Linked DNA regions of Homo sapiens: regions 1 and 2 are each reported to be linked to region 3. The links are microRNA targets in miRTarBase. Many come from high-throughput screens and were not tested one by one. Region 3 holds a microRNA gene; each other region holds the end of a gene's coding sequence. Distances are between the middles of the regions.
The links. The annotated mature microRNA hsa-miR-548ad-3p reads GAAAACGACAAUGACUUUUGCA and lies in region 3 at 1,351-1,372, shown strand. An mRNA with a match to its seed (bases 2 to 7 or 8) in the 3' UTR can be bound and repressed. Matches are read on the target gene's strand: a 7mer-m8 pairs with bases 2 to 8, a 7mer-A1 pairs with bases 2 to 7 and ends in A, and an 8mer does both.

Region 1 (3,000 bases), 110 Mb from region 3:
TCTCCTCTCCTATTCAACCTAAACTATTTCTTTCATCTTTCAGGCTTTTGAACACTTGCAGCAATTAGAATTAATAAAGCCCATGGAAAGAACTTCAGGAAATTCACAGAGAGAGTACCAGCTGATGAAACTGCTTTTGGATAATACTCAAATTATGAATGCTCTGCAGAAATATCCCAACTGTCCTACAGATGTGAGGCAGTGGGCAACATCCTCACTAAGCTGGTTATGAATATAACCAGTGACTTCAACTTTGGCATTTCATTCATACTTCTGTAGAGAACGGAAAACTATTGTCCATTAACATGATATGCTAAACATTCTATAAACATTCTTGTATTTATGTGAGACTTGCCCATCTACTGTCTTGGCTGTGTCTTGCCTTTTAATCATGAACAGTTACATGATTTATAATTTCACTGATTGAGATTACTTTGTAAGTAGCTGTTCAGAAGAATAAAATATGACTGTTTTAGGGACTAGACCATGTGCTTTTTTAACACTTATATATATAATGGTCTATTTGAAGAGCTCACTTCAACCTAACAGCTAGATGTCTTTACAAACCTTAAACCAAAGGAGTAAAAAAAACAATGGTAAGCACTGAAGTATAATAAGTAACCTTTGGTACAGCAGGTTTGCTGCAGTGTTTTTTTCTGTCCACATGCAAATTTTGGATTCTATCCCAGACCCAGGTTTTCTAGTTCAGAAGACTAACCAGCTTAGTCAGAAGATGGTTCCATGGAAGAAAAAGGCCAAGGAGTTTGAAGATTTTTCTTCTAGACATCTCAAAATGTGGTACTCATACCATCCACATCAGAATCCCTTGTAGGATTTTCTAAAATTACAGATTGTTGAGCCTACCATAGGTCAAAAGGACTGGAATTTTCCTTCTTAACAAGTATAGTCATGGCACCACGTAACATTTTGGTCAATGACATTGTATAAAGGGTGGTCTCATAAGATTATACCATATTTTTACTGTACCTTTTCTATGTCTAAATATACAAATGTTTTACCATTGTGTTACAGTTGCCTACAGTATGATTACAGTAACATTCTGTACAGTGCTATAGCTGAAGAGTAATAGGCTAGGCTATCTGTATAGCCTAAGTGTGTAACAGGCTATATACATATCATCAGGGTCTGTGTAAGTATACTCTGTGATGTTCATACAGTGATGAAATCACCCAAAGACACATTTCTCAGAACGTAGCCCCATCATGAAGTGACGTGACTACCAGAGATTTCTGGAAAAGCACTCCCAAAAGTAATGAGATGTGTATGGCAATGTTAACTGAACCTGTTTGTATTAAAAAGTAAATCCCTATGAGGAATGTGGAAATGTCCGTCAAAGCATTGTCTTTTAAGTAAGTTCCAAGATCCATGAATTAACAGAGGCATATATTTAAAATGAAATTTAATGAGCACTTAGTGACTTCATTTGTTCAAGAATATTTGATTTCCTATTGTGTGCATGGGAGGTTTACAAAAGACAGACTGTCCCTATGCTTGTGCAGCTTACAATCTATTTAACTATTAGAGGCCCTGTGAGATGTAGGCAGTTATTTACAGATGAGAAAACTAACACAGCAGTGGCAATGCTGGGAATGGCCAACAGGCTTGGAATTCAACTCAGTTTAGCACCAAAGCCAGTGCTATTAAGACCTGAAGTTCAACAGTGGATTCCTTACCAAATAGTTTTTAAAGTATGCTCTAAGGAACAATGTTTTAATGAAATCTTGGATACAAAGTGGAATAAAAGGTTTCTGAGCATAAAGTAGCTCTTCAGTAGTTACAACCTATTCTTTTGCATACATAGCCTTTCCTTCCCTGCAAAAAGTTAAGCCTGCTAAGTATTCAGATCCCTGTCATTTACTTCTCAGCAGTCTCATTCAAGCTAAGGCTTGCATACTCAATCTGTGCCGTAGTCTACACATTTTTAGGGGATATTTCACCAAAATACTTGACATGGTAACATCACTATTATATACTAGAAGCAAGAATTTTACACTTATGCTCTAAGTGATCCTTTTAAAAATTTTCTGAACTATTTGAGGAAAGTATTATTTGTCTTAAAGGGTAACAGCCTCATGAAATGACTTGAGGATTCCAATTTCTTATTAGCTTAAGATGTCACTTAAAAGCTGACAGCCCTCATCTGTCTCATTGGCTACATAAGAGCTGCAGAAGATCCATCAATAACCAAGTATAAAGAAAGATTTTAAGACTAAGTACCAATTGAGGTAAACATGAAACCGTTATAAAGCAAATTAAAAAAAAATACATTAGGAAAAGTTACACAAATGAAGTGTACGCCTATTATATTCCCAAGGCATTTTTGTGGGGAGGAACAGTGCTGCTTGTTGGCCTTTCCATATTCCCTCATACAAAAATGCTAAAATCTATTCGCAAGAGTTTTGAGCTAACTTCGTCTCTTAAATTGCTTTAATTGTCATCAATAAAAACAAATATGAAAAACCCTAGTTTAAAAAGCGGTTCAAGAATAATGTAAACTTATACATATAGCTTATTTTCTTCATTTACTAGAGGAGGAAAAATAGAACCAAAAAATGCATGAACTCCTGCTTTTCAATCTGATTACCTCAAACTGAAAAGCAGGTGAAAGGAGGAATATTTCAGTGTGTTTTTACATCTGAATCCAAGGGATCCAAGTGGCCCAGCAGAAACGGAATTCTTGTTAAAATGACTGATTCTCGTGCATGTGAAAGGCTCTGGGGAATGAATACCTGTTTGGTCCAAACTTACTGTATCATAATGCTGTATATGTTGAAAACGTAATACCTGTTAATGTCCTAATGAATCACGTTTTGCAGAAAACACCGTAAGAAACACTTCAGTCTTTCTGTAGTTTCCATGCATATTTCACCATGGTTCGCACTCTGATCCTCATCTGGTTTAGAAAGCAATTCAGTTTCTTTCAAACCACCATAACCTAAGTGCTGCCCCATCCTTCACCTTTACCCTAGAAAATCTGAG
Region 2 (3,000 bases), not on the chromosome of region 3:
TCAGATATGAGAATGGTGGGTGTAGGGGCAATGGCCAATGGGCCATGGCCGGAAGGAAATTGTTACAGAGTAGTGGGAAGCCTGCAAAGACTGGCTTCTGTCCGTTTTGCCTTGGTTTGCCCATGTGGATATTCTTTGCCAATATTTTCTGCCCAAGAGCTGTGCTTGCTAGAGTTGGAAACTGGATGAAAAGGTGAAGACTTTTTTTCTTCTCAACAGCTCACAAAGAAAGTGAACAACATAGAGACGGGCTGGGCCTTGGGGGCCACCTTTCACCTGTTGCAGTCTCTGGGCATCTCCCATTGAGGCCACGTACTTCCTTGGAGACCTGCATTTGCCAACACCTTTTTAAGGGGAGGAGAGAGCACTTAGTTTCTGAACTAGTCTGGGGACATCCTGGACTTGAGCCTAGAGATTTAGGTTTAATTAATTTTACACATCTAATGTGAACTGCTGCCTAACCACTCAAGAGTACACAGCTGGCACCAGAGCATCACAGAGAGCCCTGTGAGCCAAAAAGTATAGTTTTGGAACTTAACCTTGGAGTGAGAGCCCAGGGACAGGTCCCTGGAAACCAAAGAAAAATCGCATTTCAACCCTTTGAGTGCCTCATTCCACTGAATATTTAAATTTTCCTCTTAAATGGTAAACTGACTTATTGCAATCCCAAGACCCATCAATATCAGTATTTTTTTCCTCCCTATACAGTGCCCTGCCCACCCTTATCTGCACCCACCTCCCCTGAAAAAGAGAGAAAAAAAAAAACCTGGTTTTGCTTTCCATGTATAATTCAACAACGCAAAATGGGACCATGTCAGAATCTGTATGATCCTATTCTGTGTTAGCTCCAATCAGCCAGCTGAGAGCCATCCTAAATATTAATAGGATGAGAGAGTAACTCCTAACTGTGCATAAATTACAGCCTTAAGAAAGAAGGCCACCCGGTCTCTGGGGACATGTTTTGGGAGGGTGTGGCTGCCTCATATAGCCTACCTTTGCTTTAATCAGCATTTTATCAGTCAACTCTGGGATTAATGAACATATCCGACTTTATGGGTATGTGTATATTCAGTGCCAGTACCACCTCCCAGGCTAATGTGTTAACAGTGTTTTCTATGATTCTAAACTTGTTTTCTTTGTATTTCTAAGAAATACAACTAGGCCCTAACTTTTGGTCTGTGGTCAGAGGTCAGTGTCTGTGCTATTCCAGGATCTATTATTTCAGTTTGCCCTTTTATTCTCTCCGTTTGTAACAGTACCTTCCTGTCCTGGTCCCTGATCACTTTAGCTAATATCCTTTGAATTATTTATCTAGTTCAGAGTTTCCAATACCGTTCCTGACAAAACCCCACTTGGATTTGGTTGGCTCTCTCAGCCCACATCAGTACAGTGGACCAACATTTCCAGGGAGAACCATATTTAATGTCCCTCATGCTCTCTTTTTGAATCCAAGTGCTCAGAGCTCTTGACTGTGAATTATTTACCCCAAATTCATTATCTTGCACTTTTTTTTGAGATGGAGTCTTGCTCTGTTGCTCAGGCTAGAGTGGAGTGGCGCAATCTCAGCTCACTGCAACCTCCGCCCCCAGGTTCAAGCGATTCTTGTTCTCAGCCTCCTGAAGAGCTGGGATTACAGGTGCCCACCACCATTCCTGGCTAATTTTTGTATTTGTAGTAGAGATGGGGTTTCACCATGTTGGCCAGGCTGGTTTCCAACTCCTGATCTCAATTGATCCACCCGCTTCCCAAAGTGCTGGGATTACAGGCATGAGACACCGCGCCTGGCCTTATCTTGCACTTTCAACATAATCATCCCTGCTTCTCATCTGCCCTGCAGTGCTCTTGGACCTGGAAGATCTCCCTGTGGTCTGGCCCCTTTGCCTTGGTTGTTAACCTCCAGCTTCTTTGCAGGAGTGTATTTCCCCAAAACTTGTGGCTTTCACAGTAGACTCCGTTTCCATCCTCTCTCTCACAAAGGATGTTAAGTATGCCTGGCCCTCACACAGTCCATGGGAAACCTTATTTTTAACATTACTCCATTGAGTCAATAAATATTTACCATCTGCTGTGTGCAAGTTACTAGGCAAATTTCTGTATCCTTGTCCCTAAAATTCTTGTCTTTAAATTCATTGTGGAATTTCTTTAGACTTCACACTGACTTTTATTACTAAGGTCACCTTTATACCAACTGCCTTCCTCAAAATGCTTATAATGAAATAACAGAATCTTGAGTTGGAAACAGCCCAAAGAAATAATCCAATGTTGTACTCAGTGCAGAATTCCCTAGAATTTCTAACAGGTTGTCATTCAGCTTCTGCTAAGCCATGTTCAAACAGCTTATTCCATTTGGAACTGCACTGATATTAAAAAAAATTCCTTATATTGAGCTGAAATCTACCTATCTTCTAAGTGGTCTTAGTTCTGCTCTAATCTCTCCTTCCAAAATCTTTGGATCTTTTGAAAAAAGTTCCTCCCAAGTTCTTTTATAAGTGACATGACTTTTAGACCCCTTCCCATCTTTGTCAACAAAAGTAGGGTGCCAGACCAGTCACAGAACACTAAATGTCATCCATGTTTCCTTCAGTAGAAACCAGCAGTTTTAAAAGAGGTAAGCTGTGTTCACTAAAGACTGTTCCAGCTTGACAAATGCAGAGATATAAGTCTCTGGTCTTTAATCACTGTGGGGGCCATTTTGTAAAACACACATACTGTCCAGCAGACTCCTTTGGTCATCCCAAATACCTCTGAACTCCAGGGAAGATGCATTCTAACTCCACGAACTTACCTATTTTGTTAACCTTGATTAGACCTTCTGGAGAAGTAACCAATTTGTCCATCTTAGGAGCAATTTGGAATGAGAGTTTTTATTTTTTTCTGTAACGCCCATCCTGCCTGCAGTAGACCCTTTGGGCTTAAGAGGTCCTACAGATTCTAATAGTTTCCTCTTTGTAGATGTGTTAACATATTTAAAATACTTAGGACATGGCCTGGTACGTGACA
Region 3 (3,268 bases):
AATTTCATTTATGATGTTCAATGTGAACATGAATACAAATACTCACATTTTAAAATATATCAAATAAGTGCAGTAATTTTAAAATAATTATACTTTTTGACCAACTAGAGCTAATTTCTTAGGTTTAAAAAAGTAATTATTTTTTAAGAGATGGGTTCTCACTATGTTGCCCAGACTAGACTCAAACTCCTGGGTCTAGCAATCCTCTTGCCTCAGCCTCCCAAGCAGCTGGGACAACAGCTCTGTGCCACCACACCTAGCTATGTATTTTTTAAAAAGGTTATTTAAAACAAAATGTTACTGTAATTCAACTCTATCAACCACACCTGGAATAAAAAAATTTTCTTTCCTAAGGCACTTCCCTAATGCACTTCTACAAAAATTCGTAATGTCTCAGATCCAGTTAAAATATTTTCAACAATTGTTACTATTGATCAGCTCCTTTTGTATAGTGACGAATAAAAATTGTATTTATTTATGGTGTTCCAGATGATATTTTGCTATATCTGTCAAATCATTGTGAAATGGCTAAATCAAGCTACTTTATACATACATTACCTCACATACTTTTTTTTTTGGTAGTGAGAAATTTAAAGTGTACTCAGTAATTTGCAAGCTTATAGTAGATTGTTGTTAACTATAGTTATCATACTATACAATAGAATGCTTGAACTTATCTCTTCCAGCTGAGATTTTGTATCCTTTGACTAACATCTTGCTAGACCAATCCCCTAGCTTCTGGAAACCACCATTTTGCTTCTGTGGGTTCAACTTTTTTGGATTCCATATATAAGTGATATTATGTGGTATTTGTCTTTGTGTTCCTGACATTTCTCTCAACGTAGGTTTTCCACGTTTATTTATGTTGTCATCAGGAACAAGATTTCCTTCTTTTTTATGGCTGAAGGGTTTTCCATTGTGTGTATACAGTACATTTTCTTTTTTCATTGACCCAACATTTACCATGCTGAGAGAAGAAAGCAACTCCTCTGTTTAATGAATGGAATCCTCTAAAAACTTCAATACACATATATGAACTTTCAGAAGCATTCTCATTAAATTGGGAAAAACAGAAGGATGCCCTCTTTCACAGTGTCTACCCAGCATCATCTTCAGGATCTAGCCAATACAATAAATCGAAAGGAAAATTTATATATAGTTAATAAATAACCTAAACATATATTTTACAGAAAATATAATTTTTATTCCAAGAGTCAATGTACTCAGTTGCGGTAAAGCAAAGTTACAAGAATTCTATAAGGATCCAGGATCAAAACACAACAATTTTCACATACGTGTCAACTGTTAGGTTGGTGCAAAAGTAATTGTGGTTTTTGAAAGTAACTTGGCGAAAACGACAATGACTTTTGCACCAATCTAATACAATCAACAGTTGTGGGAAGAATTTTAACTTTTCACTCTATGTTTGTACTGTTTTAGTGTCTATGTGCATGTATGTTGTAGTTTATATGTAGGTATTACTCACGTAAAAAATTAGTTTGGTGCTTGCTTCAGCAGCATATATACTAAAATTGGAATAATATAGAGATTAGCATGGCCCCTGTGCAAGGATGACATGCAAATTCATGAAGCGTTCCATATTTTTCCCATGAGATAATTGTCTTCAGTGTCCTGGAGGCCCTCGAGGTGGGCCGGTTGGTAGAATGAGAGGCCCTCCCAGTGGAGGCATGGTGCAGAAACCAGGATTTGGAGCGGGAAGGGGGATTGCTCCACAGCAGTCAATATTCATGGATCTTCAGGCAGCCATACAAATCCTAGTTCCTACAGAATGGTGAATTTCTTCAACCAGCCATCGTGGAGTATGGCCCCAGTCTGTTAACTGCTTAACTTTGTGTGTTTTAAAAAACAGTCAACCTGGCTGCTGTGTGGAGAACAAATATAAGGAGAAAAAATGAAGGCAAAGGGATTTTAGATGGCTGGTTTAGAAGCCTATGAATTGGACTAAAGTGAAGGAAGACATGAAGATAGAGACAAGTGGGTGTATTTTACTTTAAAATTAGAATTGACATATTTTACTTATATGAGTGGTAAGCATGAATGAGTTATTAAGGATAACTCACATATCAAAAGGGAAACAATGGCATGGATGTTAAGGTTATCAGGTAGGCACAACCCTGAATACAGAGTTGTGATGCACTGAGGAGAAAACTAGGAATATCCTAAATATTTGGGAGTAGTTGACACACAGAGAGAAGGCAGAGCACAATCGGAGGGTTGAGAAATAGACATGGGGAAAACCAACTCTTCTTTTGTGATATGGACTAATGAGGGAAGCATGGCTACAGATGTGTCATGTTCAACAATGTACCCATTCTATGTGGGTACCCATAGAAGCCATACACATTAGAAACAAAGATGTTAACTGGTTAGAAGTACAGGTTTTGGAGGCAGACATGTCTGCTACCAGTATCAACATTGCTGCTTAATATCTGGGTTAGTGACTTGGGGCAACTTATTTAATCTCTCTAAGCGTTTGTTTCTTCATCTTTATTGAGAAGAATAATGCCGGTAGTATTTCCCTCATTATAAGCTTGTGAAGATCGCTAAATATATCACATGAACACGACAAATTATGGTCACTGATGCATAGGTAATACTCAGTGAAGGTTTTCTATGACTATTAGAGTTCTGTATGTTATTATTATGCAAGAAATCCACAAATGGTTATTAGTGTCCATTAAACCGTACATTATGAAACATAAATAAAACTATATCATATGTTTAACATTGTGCTTGGCCCCATTGAGAAAGTATAATAATAAATAAATTAATACTAATTTAATAGTAGTAAATTACATTTGAATGAATTGGAAAAGTAGAATAGTGCTGAGTAATTCAGGCTTAAAAACTTCCTATTCCATGATAACTCATTAAGTTAAAGACAACATATAAAATATTTACACACCTATTCCCAGGTGAGAGGCTGGTAATTTTATTAAAAATTTTAAGATTTTCTGGATAATGCATGAATGATGAGGAAACTTTTTTTTCTATTTGGATATAAATTTGGTTTCTTTTTATAATAAAATTTCAATATGTCCTATTGTCTTTTTTGTCTTAGCTAAATGGATTACTTCTATTTATAATTCCTCCAGAAATCAGTGAACTTTATCTTGAGAAATGAAAGATCAAATAGATGATATAGAGAAACAACTCTTTTACCTTCAAATAGGAAATGTAAACTGATAGGAGTCATTGTATTCCAGTCTTCTGGTCTGGAATAACAGTAACTAAATTCATTTGGTTT

Region 1: the mRNA of ORC4 is a reported target of hsa-miR-548ad-3p. The part of its 3' UTR that is shown has no 7-base or 8-base seed match.
Region 2: miRTarBase lists ENTPD5 as a target of hsa-miR-548ad-3p. The part of its 3' UTR that is shown has no 7-base or 8-base seed match.

Annotation. Positions count from the first base shown.
Region 1 is chr2:147,932,742-147,935,741 of GRCh38, reverse strand. It overlaps ORC4 (origin recognition complex subunit 4), which reads left to right. Exons shown (of 14, transcript NM_181741.4): 14 at 44-3,000. The coding sequence ends at 232. Among named protein-coding and RNA genes, the nearest start is that of ORC4, 86 kb to the left of the region's middle.
Region 2 is chr14:73,964,234-73,967,233 of GRCh38, reverse strand. ENTPD5 (ectonucleoside triphosphate diphosphohydrolase 5 (inactive)) reads left to right here. Exons shown (of 16, transcript NM_001249.5): 16 at 220-3,000. The coding sequence ends at 306. Among named protein-coding and RNA genes, the nearest start is that of COQ6, 15 kb to the right of the region's middle.
Region 3 is chr2:35,470,103-35,473,370 of GRCh38, forward strand. MIR548AD (microRNA 548ad) reads left to right here and starts at 1,303; the gene lies at 1,303-1,384. It also overlaps the pseudogene RNU6-1117P.